Regions from separate parts of the Homo sapiens genome. Here region 2 is linked to region 1. The links come from fine-mapping of genetic effects on plasma protein levels. Region 1 holds a variant in brackets. A gene starts in the other region. All regions are shown on their reverse strands. Region 1 overlaps GMDS (GDP-mannose 4,6-dehydratase). Region 2 holds the start of GALNT5 (polypeptide N-acetylgalactosaminyltransferase 5).

What was found. PIP is the chance, under the fine-mapping model, that this variant and not a neighbour inherited with it causes the effect. Protein levels are from antibody-based Olink assays in UK Biobank. Linkage for the fine-mapping came from a reference panel and not from the study's own genotypes, which makes the PIPs less certain.
Region 2: GALNT5 starts here. The variant in region 1 is fine-mapped to the plasma level of the GALNT5 protein (UK Biobank, PIP 0.91).

The regions. Positions count from the first base shown.
Region 1 is chr6:2,218,735-2,228,009 of GRCh38, reverse strand. All of the region lies in intron 1 of GMDS (GDP-mannose 4,6-dehydratase), which reads left to right. Among named protein-coding and RNA genes, the nearest start is that of GMDS, 22 kb to the left of the region's middle. RefSeq lists a silencer at 961-1,255 and enhancers at 5,215-5,832, 5,999-6,068. The variant C/TC (reference allele first, on the strand shown) is at 4,541.
Region 2 is chr2:157,252,705-157,261,979 of GRCh38, reverse strand. GALNT5 (polypeptide N-acetylgalactosaminyltransferase 5) reads right to left here and starts at 4,275. Exons shown (of 10, transcript NM_014568.3): 1 at 2,444-4,275. The coding sequence starts at 3,897.

The DNA.
Region 1 (9,275 bases):
ACTTCACTGCGTAGACCCAGCACAGGCTTGGGCCACGTGCCGAGAAAGGGCCGCACAGCCACAGGTTGGCTCTCATTGAGCATGGTTATGTGTTAACTACCCATATTTCCTGGAAATGCCACAGAACTGAAGTTGGAAGCAGGTAGGAGAGCCTATGTCTGGACAGCAAGGGGAGTCCTGGGCAGCTGCACTTACATGGACCTTGGGGAGCTGGCCCCGTTGTTGCCTTGCTGTCATGGCCACTGAGATTCAGCTGCTATTGTGACCCAGGGGACCTCTGTGTGGCACAGCCTTCTGTTCTGGAATCCCAGGGAAACAGCTCTGGCCTGCCCGCTCCTTCCTATAGTTCCAGCCACAATTGGCACCTCACTCCCTGCATCCAGTGCAATCTCAGGTGTCTCCTGCTGTGCTTGCCTTTTCCACAGTCACTCTCTAGGAACTACTGAAATTCTCACTAGAATCAGCTGTTTCTCTAGATATGGAGCTTGTTCCAAAAGAATACTTTGCTTTTTTGTTGATGTTCTGACCTTTGATTTCAGTCCTCTCCAAAGATAAGAAACTTGCCATTTGTAGTTGAAGCATCCATAAAGCATGGTTCTGATGTTGGTGGTGTAATAGAATTACTTGGGCAGGTTGAATAACTCTTGGCTCTTCTATGCAGTTCAGTGGGCTTAGGGTAGAACTTGGAGCTGGCTGTTTTTAGAAACATTCTGAGGTGTTTGAAAAGTGAGGTGTTGTGGTTGAGAACCATTCATTTATGGGGACCGTAGTAGTGACTTGAAACATTTTATATATATATATGACATATATATGGAAATATATATATTTCATAAACTTTTTTCCTTAACATTTATTCAGAATAGTAAAAATAATGTTCACTATTGAAAAATTGGAAGTATAGGAGGATATAAAGTTTCAGGGGGAAAAAAAACAACACCCGCAATCCCACCACTCAGAAGTAATTACTGCCTGCATTATCTTTTCTTCATTGTTTTGACTAACTTGTTACTGATTGACTTCACTGCTTTTCAGCAAATGTTACTGGCCTTGAGTTGGATATGGAACTTAAATTCCATCTGGAATCATTCCTGGATGATTCTTTCAGAGTCATCAAGTACTGATTGAGTACGAGGGACTCCAGGGATGAATGCATCTGGGGGTCTAGGGTGAGGAAAATCCCAGCCTCAAGAGATCTTGTTAGTTAACCAGCTTAGCACCTCCTATTATGATTGTCATAGACATTTGTGTGTATATTTTAGTTCACATGTTAGGTGTTTTTAATGGTTTCATATTATTTTGAGTGATAGAATTTAGGAGAGTAAATGCTAGTAGAATCAGAGTTCATTAGTTTTTGACATGTTATATGCAAACACTTAAAAAAATTCCTGTGATGTTTGCTGAAGTTTGCATTTCCAGATACTCATATTCCATTTCTGTGTATTCTGATAGGAGGGTTATAATATCTCTGTTGTTGGGGCTATTGCTCTGGAGTATTTATCGATTAACTTTTGTTAATGATATACTCTGTGAAAGCACTTTATTAACTGGATTAAAAAAATTAATTGTAGCACACAGTAATGCGAAAATTTAGTTGGAATGTTGCCCTTATGGACAGTTATCATAGGCAGAATCTAACTCTTAGATGGGAACAGCAATCATGATCTCACAGGTCTCCTACAGCTCTGACAAATTCTTTCAAAATTAGTGAACTGCATTCTGGGTCTCTACTATAGAAGAGTCTCTGACTTCACGGGTTTCATGTTATTTCTACCCAGGAATCAGGATGCCTCACCCAAAGGCAGTTTTGACAAAATTAAAGTATATTGTTGGTGAGTGTCCAGAAGAGAGTGAAAACTGGGATGGCCTGGCTCAGTGTTGGTCTAGCAGAAACTACCTCTAGTGTAATTGTTTCCTTTCTCCCTCCTCTTTGTTTTCTGCCTCTATTTCATTTCTTTCTTTTCACAGTTTTTTCTTTTCTATTCCTCTCTCTTTTTTTCTTTTCTTAGGTTAGGCTTTCAGGGGCTGGAATGGGAGCAGAGTTCACCTGCCAGGAAGTGAGAATGGCAGGAAAGCTGGAATGGCAGTCCTTGGCTCTCCTGTGGTCGAGGTCTGATTACCTTCTAGGTAGTCATTGTGTCCCAGGAGATTTCAGAGAACAAACAGTGGAATCTTATTTAAATAGTTCTGTTAGGAGCATTAATGTTGTTTGTAGGTCATGGTCCAGATGGAAGCTGGCCCTTTTCTGACAAATACCTGGAAACATTTCCTTATTCTACTGTACGTTAGGATTTTGCAATCATTCTTTTCTGATCCCTAGCTTACTGGATAATCACAAAGGCTTTTTACTTCCTTTGTGCTGTAATATTGATCATCTGTGTTGGTTGGTTTACAGCCAACACACTGATCCGGATGCAAGCCGGAAAATCTAAGGGTTGGCAAATGATTCGTCATTTGCATAGAACAGCCTAGGACTCTTCAGAATGAACTTATGGAAGAGAGCTGTGGCATAGGAGCAGGAGAAGGTACAAGTTAGGGAGCAGTTTGGTATTGCACTTCATCTTTAGTTCAGCTTTGTTGCAGGGATCAAGACTGCAAGTTAAAGGGCAAGTTAGGGGGCACCTCTGTCTTTAATGAGATCATAGGATAAAGGCTTATTTATTTGTTTGTTTGTTTATTTATTGAGACAGGGTCTTGCTTGGTTACTCAGGATGGAGTGCGGTGGTGCAGTCTTGGCTTACTGAAGCCTTGACCTCCCCAGCTCAGACAATACTTCTGCCTCAGCCTCCCGAGTAGCTGGGACCACAGTTGTGCACTACCATGCCCAGCTAATTTTTTTTTTTTTTTGTATTTTTTATAGAAACGAGGTTTCACCATGTTGCCCAGGCTGGTCTTGAATTCCTGGGCCCAAGCGATCCACCCACCTCGGCTTCCCAAAGTGCTGAGGTTACAGGCCTGAGCCACCATGCCCGGCCAAGGCTTACTGTTCATCTCAGGTAGCGTCTGACATCGTGTGGACGTACGTGCGTTCAAATCTCCTCTCTGCCAGTTCTCAGTTCTGTGACTTTCAAGTAATTATTCAGCCTCTCTGTGCCTCAGTTTTCTCTTTTGTAAAGTGAGGATAATGGTACTAGCCATAGGTGAGGGTTGAAGGACACAGTGTCTGGCACATAATATTAATAAATATTCATTAATGTTTTACTCTTGGCTGTCCTGAACATTAGTCTGCTTTGACCTAGAATTCTTTTCCTGAAGACACGCTATAATTTTGATGAGAGTAAACAACTAACTCTTATTTGCATGTTCAAATAAACATGTTTTTATGAAGGTACTTGGTGTTCATTAACAAATGCTATACTTATGATTTTTTTTCTCTGAGACATAATACCAAACTTGTACATAAAATATTTCTGATCACTGATCTTCGCTCCTATAACTATAAAATTATATGTAAAATAGCTAAAAACTACTCAGTGCACTCTTTAGAATATATGTATTTCTCCTATGAGAAGCATCATTGAGATCTTTATTTGGGAAGCAATTAGGTTGCAAATTGAAAACAGTTTCCAACATCATCACCAAACTGAAAATGCCAAGTTGTCTGAGTCTAATGTCCAGAAGTCATTGTGGCCCTGTGGTCAGTGTTCTGCATTAGGGATCCCTGCAACAGAGCTGAATTAAAGATGAAGCACAGTAACCCAACACCTGTGTCAATAAGGGTGGATAATTTCTAGGGTTCCACAACGGGCTGTCAGTATCTTTCTCATTATTCCCCCAGCCTTTGTTTCACAGCCCAGTGGCTTCAGTCACTATGTCCATTTTCTTATCTCTTAAGGACTGTTCAACTCATTATATTTGGTTGCTTTCCCCATCCTACCCTAAACTGTTGTTATATAAGATCTTCTAAATTACCTTTCACGGCTAAACCCTGCAACTTCAGTCCTTGTCTTACTTGCTTTGTTGGCGTGTGTTATCACTGTCACTTTTCCTCTTGATTTTCCCTCCTCTGCTGGTTTTCCTTGTACCTCTTTGTCAGTGCATTGTTCTGCCCACCCTTGCAGGTTAGTGTGTCTTAACATACCATTCCTGACTCTCTCCTACTTTGTTCACTTTCTATGTCTACAACTGCAGTCACTCTTCCCTTGTGAATCCCAAAGCCTTGTCTCCAGTCCAGATTTGTTTCCTGAGTTCCAGACCCTGAGTTCCAAATGCCTCAACATTTCCATGTAGGTATTTCATAGACATCTCCTACTCCACATGTCCCTCCCTTCTATCATCTCTGTGTTTTTCCCCACCCTATTTCAAAGCAGGACCACAATCCATTTGGGAGCCAAAGTCAGAAATCTTGGAGTCATCCTATCGTCCTCCTTTCCCCTCACTCCTCATGTCTTCACCAGCAGGTCCTGCTGATTTTACCCCACTAGCATAGCTTTGGTAGCGGTGTCATCTCTTGTCCTTTCCTTGCCCACATCAGTTACCTTGTCCTGCCTGGGCTGTTATAGTAACCTCCTACCTGGTCTTCTGCTTCCAGTCTTTTTTTTTT[C/TC]CATTCATTTGCTGCCAGTGAGTTTTAGCTGGAGTGACCATCTGATCATGTCAGATGGTCGCTCCTCAGCTTAAACTATTGGTGGCTCTCTCTTGCCCTGGGGGGAGTGTAAACTCTCCAGTGTCCCAGTGCCTTTGTGACTAGCACTTTCCTGCCTTTGCACCACATGCCCCCTGGCTTGTGTGTGTTTTGTAACCCAGCCATTTTGTACGGATAGTTTCTTGAATTCACCATATCCACATTAGTCATGGTTCTCTGGAGAAACAGAACCAGTGGGATGGATGGATATGGATATATATATATGTGTGTATATATATATAGAGAGAGAGAGAGCGCGCTATTGATTGATTGATTGATTGATTGATTGATTTGAAGGAATTGGTTCATGTCATTGTGGGGGCTGGCAAGTCTGAGATTTGCAGGGCTGGCTGGCAAGCTAGAGACACAGGAAAGAGTTGATGTTGCAGCTCCAGTCCAACATCTAGGCCGCTTGGAGGCAGAATTAGTTGTTCCTCCTGGGTAATGTCTTTGAGTGGATGAAGCCCACTCACATTGTAGGGAGTATTACTCAGTGTACTGATTTAAATGTTAATCACATCTAAAAAATAGCCTTCAGAGCAACATCTAGGCAGGTGTTTGACCAAGTCTGGTTGGCATATCCTAGTTAGCACACAAAATTAACTGCCTCACTGTCTTTCTCAATGTTGCTCGTGTTTGTATCTGTCCAGATTTCCCCCACACCTACTGTGGTGCCTACTGACCGCCTGGAAACCTGCCACTCATCCTGTGCTCCACTCTCAGCCTGCCCTGACCTTCTCAAGCAGCACAGCATTTCTTAGTACAGCATTTCCTTTTTTTGTTCCTAATTGGCTGGTAATTGCGTCTATTACAGTATTCCCCCTTTGCTGTGAGTATTCTTAAATTGCCTAACAGAATCAGTATGCCTCAAGGACCAAGCTTCTATTGTTTACATTCACCAGTGCTTAAGCACCTGATGAGTACCCAATAATTGTGTAATGAGGCACCGAATGAATGGAGACATTTGGGCCAAAGGGTCGGAGATAAGCAGTGAGAATGGAAGCAGTTGAGGGAGAAAGCAGAGGTTTTGGAGCCATTTGGAATTGGAGGAATCCCATTCACTGCACCAGGGTGTGGTCTCTAACCCCAGGAGAGCATTTTAGACGCCTAGGGAAAGCAGCTCTGCAGTCAGATTGACAGGATCGGAGTAAACCTCTGAGAAGCTCCAAAACTCAATCCCAGATCATACTTCTTACAGTGAGTGCTGGTCTAATGATTTCCATAGAATTTGCATCGTAATTTGGTGACAGTGTGTAAAAGCTGTCATTATCAGACTTCAGCATACTAGTCGCTTCCAGCTAATCACCTCCATGCAGGGGAGCCTAGACTGAAACATTGTTGCTTTTCATTATTTTGGAGAATAATTTAGGTAGAATTACTGTTTAATTTTTGTATTTCCTATTTAAGAAAACCTGTTTCTTTACGGCCCTTTGACTTTCATTTTCTCTTTTTCTTCCCACTGACCTGGCGGCTTCTTAAAGGGGCAGCACCAAGTTTCCTGTTGCCCCTGTGGGCAGTGGCCACAGATTGTCTTCTTTTTCTTCTTTTATACCCCATGGCACATTCTGAGAGTATTTTCTTTTTTCGTTGTTGTTTGTTTTCTTTTTGCTTGGGACTGCTATAATGTGAATATGATATTCTCATTAATTCATTTACTCATGTTGCAAAATTCACTAAAATCCCTTTGTTAAAAGAACATTTTAAGGCCGGGCATGGTGGCTCACTCCTGTAATCCCAGCACTTTGGGAGGCCGAGGCAGTCGGATCACGAGGTCAGGATATGGAGACCATCCTAGCTAACACGGTGAAACCCCGTCTCTACTAAAAATACAAAAAATTAGCCGGTCGTGGTGGCGGGTGCCTGTAGTCCCAGCTACTCTGGAGGCTGAGGCAGGAGAATGGTGTGAACCCGGGAGGCCGGGAGGCGGAGCTTGCAGTGAGCCGAGATTGCGCCACCGCACTCTAGCCTGGGTGACAGAGCAAGACTCCGTCTCAAAAAAAAAAAGAACATTTTAGATGACACTACTTTAAGTAATGTAATATTGTGTTTAAGGGAGCTTGATTAAAATAATAAAATGCAATTGAAGTCAAAACAGATGGATAAATCATGATATTACAAGTGAGAACTGGAATTCTACGTGAAGCCAGGAATAAAGCTGAGAGGTAATCTTTGAGCCACAATTTTGTGTTTTTTTGTTTATTTGTTTGAGATTGGGTGTTGCTTCTTGCTCTGTTGCCTAGGCTGGAGTACAGTGGCTCCTGTAACCTCAAACTCTTAGATTCAAGCAATCCTCCCACCTCAGTCTCCTGAGGAGTACATTACTTGTGGTAATGTACTACAGGTGTACATTACCATGCCTGGCTAATTAAAAAATTTCTGTATAGACGGGGTCTTGCTGTATTCCCCACGCTGGTTGTGAACTCCTAATCTCAAGTGATCTTCCCACGTTGGCCTCCCCAAATGCTTGGATTCCAGGTGTGAACCACTGTGCCTGAGCTTGTACATCCCTTCTTAGAAGGCCACAGCTTTATTACCATTATCAAACAGGGACATACAAGTACAGGTTGAGTATCCCTTATCTGAAGTGCTTGGGAGCACAAGTGTTTCAGATTTTTTTTTTTTCCGATTTTGAAATATTTTCATATACGTAGAGAAATGTATATACAAATCTTGGGGGTGGGACCCAAGTTTAAACATGAAATTTGTTTATCTTCATATATACCTTAAACACATAGCCCGAAGGTAATTTTATACAACACATTAAGTAATTTTATGTGTGTAGCAAAGTTTGTGTACATTGAACTGTCAGAAAGTGAAGGTGACTCTATCTGAGCCACCCATGTGGACAGTCTGTAGTTGTCTGGCATCCCCATCCTTCTTGAGGCTGAATTTATATGCTACGTATAAGCAATTATTGTCTCACATCTATTCACATTAAAGCACTTAACAGTAAAAAATATGACATGCCATTATTACAGCGAGAAAATAAGTGTCAGGGTAACCAAGCAGCACAGAGCATCACCAGACATCTGTACCAGCTGCTAAACCACAGCAACAGCACACAGCAGCAGGCTTTCCGTCTCCATCTGTGAGGCCTTGTGTTGACTAAAAGGTTACCGTACCTGTATCTTGTGTTTGGTGGGTGAAAAGAAACATCAGAAGTATTGAAGGACCGGGAAATTGAGTCCTCTAGGGATAAGGAGGCGTTCTGCTGGATGGCTTTTAAAGATGTTTCCTCCGGAGTCATCTGCCTCATTAGCCATGATTTTTGTCTTACAAGTCTTTGATTTTATACACTGACAGGATTTCATGTTTTATTGTGAATGCACACTGCCCTAGCCCTTGAATAAGCCCTTCACACATTTTCAACATGTTGTCTCTGGGCACTTTTTCTGCAGTGTTGACATCATCTTCATTGTCACCATTATAGGTTGAATATCCCTTATCTGAAATGCTTGGGACCAGAGGGGTGGAATTTTCCACTTCTGGTGCCATGTTGACACTAAAAAAGTTTTGGATTTGGGGACATTTTGGATTTTCAGATTAGGGATGCTTAACCTGTAGTTGTATAATTTATGACATTTGAAGAAAACGGAAGTGACCCGGCTGCTCAGGAGCAATATTCATGATACTGAAATCAGAGGGAATTTTTTTTTAAAGTTTCTGGTTTAAGTTGGTGCCCAGGAGGTGTGGTCTTTTAACTGGTGTGGTCGGTGCTCTGTTTGTTACTGGTCTGTGACAAGGTAAGTACAGAAAATGAGAGTAAATTTAGAAGCTTTTATAGCAAGTTCCTGAGACATTTACATCTAATCATTTTTTTTTAGTAACTCACCTTCAGTTGTATTTTACAAAAGAACCAGTTCATGATGGATTAGAAATTTAAAATGAGGATGCTGACAATAACTAGTTCTTTACTGCAGACAGTTTGAGAAGCACTGGTTTAGAGGATCCTGTGTAAAGTGATTACGAATATCGTCCATATAGTAAGTTCTATGTTGTCTTCTCACTTAACAGGATGCACTGTTGGCTGATGGCCTAATGACAGCATGCTCTTCAGCCAAACTGGTTCTGTAGGACTCAAGTTTCTACCCTCTCTATCATCTGGCTTCTATTTAGATTTTGCTTTATTTCCAAATTTTTATTTATCTTCTGGGTAGGTAATATATTCAGCTAATTTAAAATATAAAGATGCAAATGGGTATTCAGGTGAGTCGTCCTATGCCTGTCCGCCACCTCCCCATTTCCTCTTCTCAGAGGACCGACCTGTTGCCTGTTTACTTTCTTTTTTTGTTTTTCACACAGGGTCTTGCTCTGTCGCCCAGGCTGGAGTACAGTGGTATGATCGTAGCTCACTTCAGCCTTGACCTCCTGGGCTCAAGCGGTCCTCCCTCCTCAACCTCCCAAGTAGCCAGAACTCAGGCCTGAATCACTGTGCCCAGCCTATTTATTTATTAAGAGATTTTTAAAGAAATTCCTAATGCTTAGAATCTGTGAAAAAGCACAGGTGTTAGGTTAGCTCTTGGAACCTTGTGACCCTGAATAAACTTTAGCCTCTACAAACCTCAGTTTCATAATGTATAGAATGAAGATAATTAACTCTAATTTCAGGGTTGTTGGCACGTAACATAGCTCTCAATAAATGATCTGGTGATTGTAA
Region 2 (9,275 bases), not on the chromosome of region 1:
TCATTTTCTTATTCTATTTTATAACAATTTCCCCTTATGCTGACTTCGAAAACTTATTATCTTAAAAAATCTTATTGCATGCATTCCTGTAAGCAGCTACCTCAAACGCTTTTTGAGCCAGGCTGAAAATAAATAAAGCCAAATTTAAAAAAACAAAAACAAAAAACACTCCAAATCTTGCCAAACTGATGAATCAAATGTTTTTTGATTGTATTTTCTTTAACCTTTATCTATATGAATACATAATTTACACATATTTATAGTCAAGGTGTTTGGGTAAAAGAACAAAAAATGATTTATCCTCTTTCAAAGAAGAGGACTACAAAAGGACTGAAAAATACTTTGGGAGGCCCCAGGTCCAGGATCCCTGGTGGTAGACCCCTGAGTGGAGCGTAGCATCCGCCAGGCAGCTTGAGACACACCTATATTTAGCCAAGGTGGGTTATGTGATAAGAGGGAGGAGGCCTGGCCACATGCTCTCTGACTCATCCTCTCAAGCACATGTGTCAATTTTTCCTACAGTTGGGACAACCTCCTTCAGAAGACAGAGCCTGACTGTAACTTTCCTGGGCTGCAATGCTTAACTTCTACAGAACAAAGTATAGAAACTAAGAAGCACTGGGAGTCCCCGAGCTTTCAATGAGCCACACTAGTGATAACATCGTTATTACTTGCTTTGAGCACCCCCACCCCCGCCACGCATGTGCCTTTTCTCTGGTTTGGAACTGGAGCTTGTGCTTCTGTGCAGTGTCTAATTCCTCCCCAGACTCCCTAGCAGCCTGCCAGGTCAATAAGGGCATGTTAAAATGAAACTGCTTTAACGGCTACTTCATTTCCTTGCACTTTGTGTTCAAAGCTGGCATGTGTAATCCTGTGATACACAGGACTTTAGATTAGAGCTGGGCCAACACAATTTTTAGGATCCTTTTTGAGGGGAGATTGGCAAGAGATGGAAGAGAGTGCAGAATAATTTTGAGCATGAATTTTAATCATTTCTCTACAATGACTAGCTTTGTGACCACAGGCAATCTAGCATCCCAGGGCCTCAGTTTCCTCATCTTTGAGTATGTCTGCATTCTCCTCAAGACTGTGATTATCACCAGGGTGAGAAGCGTGAATGGCACAGTGCTTGGTATAAGCAGTGCATGGCTGATAGCTGTTTGCTGATGGCTAAGAGATGGAAAACGACCTGGTTGTAGCCGACATCACAATGAAGAGACTCTTCTTTCTAATGTGGATAAAGCTTCTCCTGTATCTGCCTTCCTCCTAGTAACACTGACTAAAATGTAATGCTGACTACCTAGATCACAAAGAAGAATTTTCTACAGAAGCCAAACAAGGCCATTGTTTACATGCCACATGTGCTAAGTCTCAATCTTGACATTCCCCAATCCAACTTCCTGGCAAATATTGTTTGACTTAGGGAACTGAGTTAACAGATATTGAACATACGGCTGTTGAGTACCTTCACTTATCAGTGGGCCAAGAAAAAAAATGCCAGGAACCCAATTATATTTGAATCAGATTAAATATCTATGTTTTGATCCACATCTGGTGATATAGTTATAGGAATTTAACTTTTTGAAGGACTGGTTACTGAAGGCCCATTGGGCAGCTTTAGAACTGCATTACCTTGAGAAAGTGTTGTAACTTCTGAGCGCCCTCGCCAGCTTGTTAATTTGAACCATAATGACTGCCTCCTCCTTTGCAGGGCTCATATGGAGTTCATCTATGTGTATGCAGGCTCTTTGTAAATAGTGAATGTCTACAAATATAAGTGATTATTATTATGCTTTTTATACCTCCTGTAGGTGTTTGCTGGTCATGGACTGATTGACTTTTTCCAACATTATGATTCCTATGTAACTGATCTCCTGAAATATCTACCATCTCCACCTATAAAGGAGATTAAATTTTAGGGAGTAAAGTCACTTCTCTTGCTATCCTGCTTATCATTACTTATGATTAGGCAGAATTCTGCTGGTTAAGATATGATTCCAGGGAGGCCTAGAAGAGTCCTTCTGTGTGCTTCTTTCCCAAATATATTCCTGACAAACTTGCTAATAATGAAAAGTTCCAAAATTGGGAATTCACTTCATTGTCACTATTCTAATGGAATTACACTTTAAGCTCTACCATTTATATACACGTTATTATGAACTGAGTTCATCTAATCATTTTAATAGGTTTTCAACAGAGGGAAGAAAATTGAACATGAGCTAATGGTAGGGACCAAAGTCTCAGAGAACAAGAACTCTGCAACTGCTAATAAGAGAATTTTTGTCTCTGTAGCTGGTGAAATATTTGAATGATATCCAATGATTAATGTTTCTTTAATTCTCTAGGTGACCAAAAATCACACAGAATTATCTAGCAATAAATCCTCTTTACATAACAGCCAAAGCACTTGGGGTTGAGGAAAGAGAAGAGAAATAGGTCTTACCCAGCAGGTCTGGTGTCTTCAATGGCTCTATCCACTGGGATCAAATCGCTAAGGTAGACATTGAAGTTTCCTTCTTTCCATCTTCTTTCTGCCTCCTTCTCCTTTCCATGGGGGACAACTACAGGACGCCCAAACTGCCCTGGAGCTTTGGGGTCCCTTGGAGAAAGTGTCACATCAATTCTTAACACCTGGTGCGTTCCACTGTCTTCAGGTAAAAGGGCTTTTATATGACTCTGGTTGTATTCTGTAGAGGGGGCTTTGGCAGTTATGTTGATTTTTGCTGGCTCTAGCCCTCCAGTTAAAGCATGGTTAGTTTGGGACAGTGGCACTCTATGTGGAGCAAGTGAAGAGGAAGACATCTCACTTCTATTCCTGGAAATGTGTTTACTTTGGCTTTTACCCAATACTTTAGGAAATATTGTTTTGGTTTTAGAATTAGAGACCTCTTTGGGGTCTGCCTTTTGCTCTTCCTCTTTGGTTATAATCACAAGATGGCTTTCAGAGAAATTGAGTTTCTTCCCATGAGCCCCTCTAGCTCCATCATCCTTTGACAAACTTCCCAAAGGTGTCTCATTAATAGATTGCTTCCTTAAGCGATTTGAATTGACAGTGAACTTAGGAAAAGGAAGACTCGTATTGGCTTTGTGTTTATTTGCATTGACTTCTTTGCTCTGAGTCTTAGTTTTGTTTAAGGCCATGGCTTCCCCAGACTTCGGCACTGCTGTGCTGGCAGGGTGTGCCCTCTCGTTTGCTACTGCCTGTGATCGCTGCTTTGGTCTATCAGTACTAAGACTGATGGTCACATTCAAGTCCCTTTCAGCTGCTAGTTTTGATGTGTCACTGCTGGGACTATGACTCTTCCGGGGCTCCTGTTTTAAACTGACACGTCCCATGTGTACTGATATTTTGACTACCTGAGTTCCTTTTGCTGCTATGAATGAGGTCTTTGGAGCCCCCTGAGCTGTCGTTTGCTTTGGTGTCCCCTGGTGAGAGGAGGCTTCAGGTTTGGTGCCTCTCCCGTCTGTCTTCTGCTTGTTAGGAGTCACAGGGAGGGTCTGCAGATGTGCAGGATGCCACAACGGCACAACCTTGCCCCTTCCCAGGGCATTCTGCATTTTTCTTTCCCTCTGGGTTTGGTCCAAGTCCACCTCAACCTTGAGCACACTCTCCTCAGTTTTTCTAACATTCTCTTTGCCCCATGCCCCTTTCCCATGTCCCCTTAGGGGAGGTTTCATCTCTTTTATGCTGCTGTAAAAAATTTTTCCTTGGTCTGGCTGAACTCTGAATCCTATCCGCTCCCTCCTCACAATGTCTTCCTTGATGACCCGAGTGTTGATCTCACTGAATGAGAGGCGGAGAGCTGCCATGTCAAAGAGGAGCCAGATGACAGAAGCTACAAAGATAAATGCCAAGACTCGCCCACTTCCTCGGAAAAACTTTCGGATCCTGTTCATGGTACAAAGCTTTCCCTAGCAGCCTGCCCTCCCTTAGCCTGCTTACCTTGAGTGGAGAGGAAGCTGAAGTAGCAGCAGCAGCAGCAGCAGCAGCAGAGTTGCCAGAAAGTGACCCCCTCCCCTGAACACAGCAGGAAGCAGCAGTCCAAGGGGAAAGCTCAGTTCCTACCGCTTGTCAGTCTCTGCCTGCGTGGCATTTCATAGCAGAGCATCTGTGCCTGCTTGGCTGGCCCTGGCTAAGTTCTGATAAACACTGGCCTTAGGTCACTCCAGGAGCAGTTGATTCCAGCCACCGAACAGTTCAACATATCACTTGTCTTGTCTCCGGGAGCCCATGTCCACCTTCCTACAAGCCCAAGAAAAGGTGGGGGCCAGATTGAGACTGCCGTTTCTCTCCTCCCCGTTCTCCGTCTGCACGCTGTAACTCAACACCACTTCTCATAAGGAAAACATTTCATGCCATTACCCAGAAAACTTCATTCAGCTCTCACCTTCTGTGTTATGTGAGAGCATGTGTGTTTAAACGGCAATTAAAGAGGAAAAAAAGCTATCTAACTTGGAGGGCATGTGTTCCTGGTTTGTGACCCCACCTACCCTACTCCTGCTCATTAACCCTGTTGTAGCCAGGTGCCAATGCTCTGCCTGAGGAATTTATCACTGAAGTTAACATTTCAGCTTTAAGACATAACAGCTTAAAGAAGGGGCCTGGTATATCCTCACTTCCAGAGATGTATATGTTTAATTATTTAGATCATTCATTCAAGGGGTTTCAATGTATTTCTTTGTAAGCCAACTATTTTTTTTTCACTAATCCATCTGTTTTTATTATTACATTTGATTACAAATAAACTTAATTTGTCATACTGCTATAAAAGTTTCTAAACACTTTGTTATGGTCTGAATGTTTATGTCCACCCAAAATTCATATGTTGAAACCTAATCATAAATGTGATAGTATTAGGAGGTAGGGCTTTTGAAGGTGATTTCATTATAAGGATAGAGCCCTCATGAATGGGATCAGCACCCTTAAAAAAGAGGCCCTATTGCCTTGCCATTCCACAAAGTGAAGACATAATGAGAAGGTGCCATCTATGAACCAGGAAATGGGCCTTCACCAGTCAACGAATCTGCTGGTGCCTTGATTTCTGACTTCTCAGTCTCTAGAACTGTGAGAAATAAGTTTCTGTTGTTTATGAGTCACTTAGTCTATGTTATTCTTCTATAGTAGCCTGAACAGATTAAGATACACTTACTCTCAGTTTCAGTACTTATCTCGTCTTAAACCAGCAAGCAACAGTTTCAGGACCACACCAGGACTTGGACCAGATTTTGAGTGATGCTGGTTGACTGGTAGGGTAGCAGTTCCGCCACAGGCTTTTCATTAGAACCACTTGAAACAAGATCCCCAAAACTCTGGTCAATTGATGAGAGAGGAGGTGGAGATGACATTTGGGCTGATATTGTATTAAATATATATATATATATATATATATATATATATATATATATATATTTTTTTTTTTTTTTTTTTTTTTACAAAGCTTCCCAGGTCTTTCAAATGTGCAGCTAAAGTTGAGAAACACTGGTCTAGAAAAAAAGTCTCAATTTTTTGTTTGTTTGTTTTTGGTTTTTGAACATTGCCTATGAGACATTTAATTTTAGGTGTCTACTTGACTGGGCTAAGGAACACCCAGAGAACCAGTAAAGCATTATTTTTAGGTATATCTGTGAGGGTGTTTCCAGAAGAGATTGGCATTTGACTCAGTGCACTGAGTGGGGAGGAGATGCCCTCACCCAATGTGGGCAGGCACCACTAATTGGTTGAGGGCCCAGATAGAAAAAAAGGCAGAGGAAAGGTGGATTCTGTCTCTGTTAGTGAGCTGGGACATCTTTCTTCTTCTGCCTTTGGACTAGAACTTTAGATTCTCTGGCTTTGGCCTCTGGGGCTTGTACCAGTCTGCCCCCACAACCTCCACATCCCTCACTAGGTTCTCAGGCTTTTGACCTCAGACTGAGAGTGATGTTATTGGCTTCCCTGGTTCTCAGGCCTTTGGACTCAGAATGTGCCATGTTACTGGCTTTCCTGGTTCTCCAGCTTGCAGGTGGCCTGGACTGAGGTTTCTCAGTCTCCATAACCACATGAGCCAATTCCTGTAATAAACTGCAACTCACTTATCTACCTCTATGAATCCTATTGGTTCTGTTTCTCTGAAAAATCCTGGCCAATACAGTCTACAACTTGTGTGACATTCCTTCCCTGTCTAAAGTACAGTCTAATAAAATCTATGCATTCCCATAACAACTAAATCAGAATACACATTTTGACATTGCCAGTTGTAAAGATTGTCCATAGAGTTTGAGAAGCACTTCTCGGGACCACTGTCCTTCTCTCTGAGGAACTCTGAGTGATTTGTGGACAACACTGCTGTTCATTACTCTAGTGTGGGGAGGGTCTAGCTTCCATGCTTTGAGGTAAACTTATGTTCCCAATGACTTGGGAGGGGAAGGAGAGATTCCAAATTCATATATATATCTCAAGCACTTTGCTAAGTTCTTTCCATTGACTATCTCACTCAATCCTCACAAGAATCTAATGTGAAGGAGTAAATTACAATATGTATTTTGTAGTCAGCAAATGAAACCTTAGAGAGGTAAAGCAACTTCTGGTAGAGATTGGAGGGGTTGGGTCTTGAATACACGACTGTAGTCCGTGTGCTTCAATATCACACAATACTGCTCTCTAGCTGTATGATCTTGCAGGCTAGTTAATTTTATGTGGTTACTGAGCAATAAAAAAAAATTCTGCTTTGCAGATTAATGTGAGAATATTTAAAAATGGTTAAAGTTATTGTTATATTGAAGGTACTCTTTAAATGTTAGCCATTCATATTGTTGCTAATACTTTGCTGTAATAGGAGTGTCGGATGCATGTGGGAGGCAATGTACCAGCTCTTCCCAAAAAAACAAGTAGAAAACTAGTGACTAACATGATTCTGGCAATGGGGAAGAAACAAATCTGAGTATTTTATTTTATTCTTGCCATTCTTATTTCCTCTAATTATAGATTTAACAAGACCATTGTTCACTGAGAACTCCCTACATGCCCAAAACATGAAGTAGGTGACATTGTCTCTGCCCCTAACAACCTTAAAACTCCCCTCAGTAGAACGCCACCAGTATAATAATAATAATAATAAAAAAAGAACGCCACCAGCAAAAAACATAGCACACATCTTTAGCATCCACATTCGAAAATAAAGTGAGAATTTTTTTTAGCATCATGGATAAATGGTTTGCATTACAATATTGTTTTAAACATGAAAATAGAATACTTTAAAATTATTTTACTCTGCATGATTCAATCTTGTCCAGCCACCATCCCACCCCAAATGGCAGTTGGAATTACTCAAATGTCTTTTAGGAAAGTCAACACTTGTTATATTCTATGCTTGGCAGTTTAAAACACTGCTTGAAATATATTCTTGTTTCCATATAAATTTTATCAAAGAGTACTGATTTCTTTTTATCCCTCTCTGGTTTGTCCTTGCGAATCAAAACACAAATTACTTGCAACAGGAGAGCAACATGTTAAGAAAATTAAAAGGGAATCTTGGCTTATCTATCATGGGTAAAGCAACACATTAACTCTGGCTTAGTCTTCGGTCTATTTGACATACAATTCAGAATGAAATGTGAAGAGTGGGTAGGAGAGTAAGGAAACATTGATTAAATATCCTAGAAATGGAGGAGTAGATTTGTTGTCAGACCTGGTCTAAAGTACTGACTTGGCCACTAATAGCCATATGACTATGGATGTGTCACACATGGAAAAGCTTGTGTAAGGTTCTCTTCCCAGCCTCTTCTTGGTCTTTTCCCTTGTGAGTTTATGATAATCTGTGATGATGGTAGAAGTTGGTTATAAGCCATACCACTAATTCAACACTATGTGTCTTCAGGCACTCAGTAATAATTTCTGTGGCCCTCATAGCTGTACATCTTTCTCCTTTTTTTTCTCTTTTCCGACACACATGCTGTTTCACATCTCAGATCAATGAATTGCATAGGTAAAAGGAATAGAAAAAAAAGGATATTAGGAAATTCTACCTTTTCATCAACACACATATTGCCCAACACATGACATTTGTATATTGGTAAATGACGGTGCTTCTAAAATTTTAGTTGTATTAATTTCCATGTTACCAGCAGGAAACTAAATACGTAAGTGGGTTGGTTATTTGAGGTACCCCACAGTTAGGGAGCCTGGCTTGTCATCCCAAGTCGTAGAATGCAGGTACCTTTGGCTGGTCAAATTTCTCAAGAATCTGTACATACTTAGTTGGAGATGATATCCATCTGAAAATCTGGAGTTACGAATTATCCTTGGGAGACATTTGGAGGGGTTATTCCAATTATCAGTCTGACTCCAGCTTGTACTAAACATTTAAAAACAGATTTTAGTTTCTTCTTCTGTAAAACGAGCATAATAGTAGGAGGACTTGCCCTCTACTCTATTTGGTTGTTGTCAGGATAATCATATTAATAGCAACCTTTCATTGGGAATTTACTGAGGGCCTACCACTAGTCACTTCACGGTATCTCATTTAATCCTCAACATTTAATTTTCTCAGACTAGATCAAAAACTGTTCAGCAAAACAGATCTGCATAAAGTTAGAGTGAAAAGTATATTTGTGTTATATTCTCATGGCAAATGTCTTTGAATCATCCTCATTGTTAATCAAGTAGGAGCTCAGTAAACACTGTTTTATATCTAGCCTTAAATCTCCCTGATGGAAGTACAGAATCTTAGAAACACCGGTTCCAGCTCTCTGGCTTTGCATCTACAGTTACTTTATCTGGGTATTTGAAGATTTCTTGACTATGTGAGTATATCCTAAGTAACTAATATCTGTTTTATTTTATGATATTTACTCAACTACTCACTCCTAAGTAAAAAGAAAGATGTAAAAGGAAAATTAATTTAAATGTATATTTTACAGAGAATAATGATTATCCATGGATGCATCACTGAATTTCTTTTTCCCCAGTTTTACTGAGCTATAATTGACTAATAAAATGATACATATATTAAATATTTAAGGTGTACAACATGACTTTGGATAGCCTTATACATTGTGGTATGATTGCCTCAATGCAGCTGATCTCCATTATCTCACATAATTATCTTTTTTTGTGTGTGGTGAGAACATTTAAGATCTACTCTCTTAGCAAGTTTCAAGTATACAATATATTATTATCAACTATGGTCATCAGGCTGTACATTAGCTCTCCAGAACTTACTAATCCTGCGTAACTGAAACTTTGTATTCTTTGACCAATACCTTCCAACTTTCTCCATCCCCCAACCCGCAGTAACCAC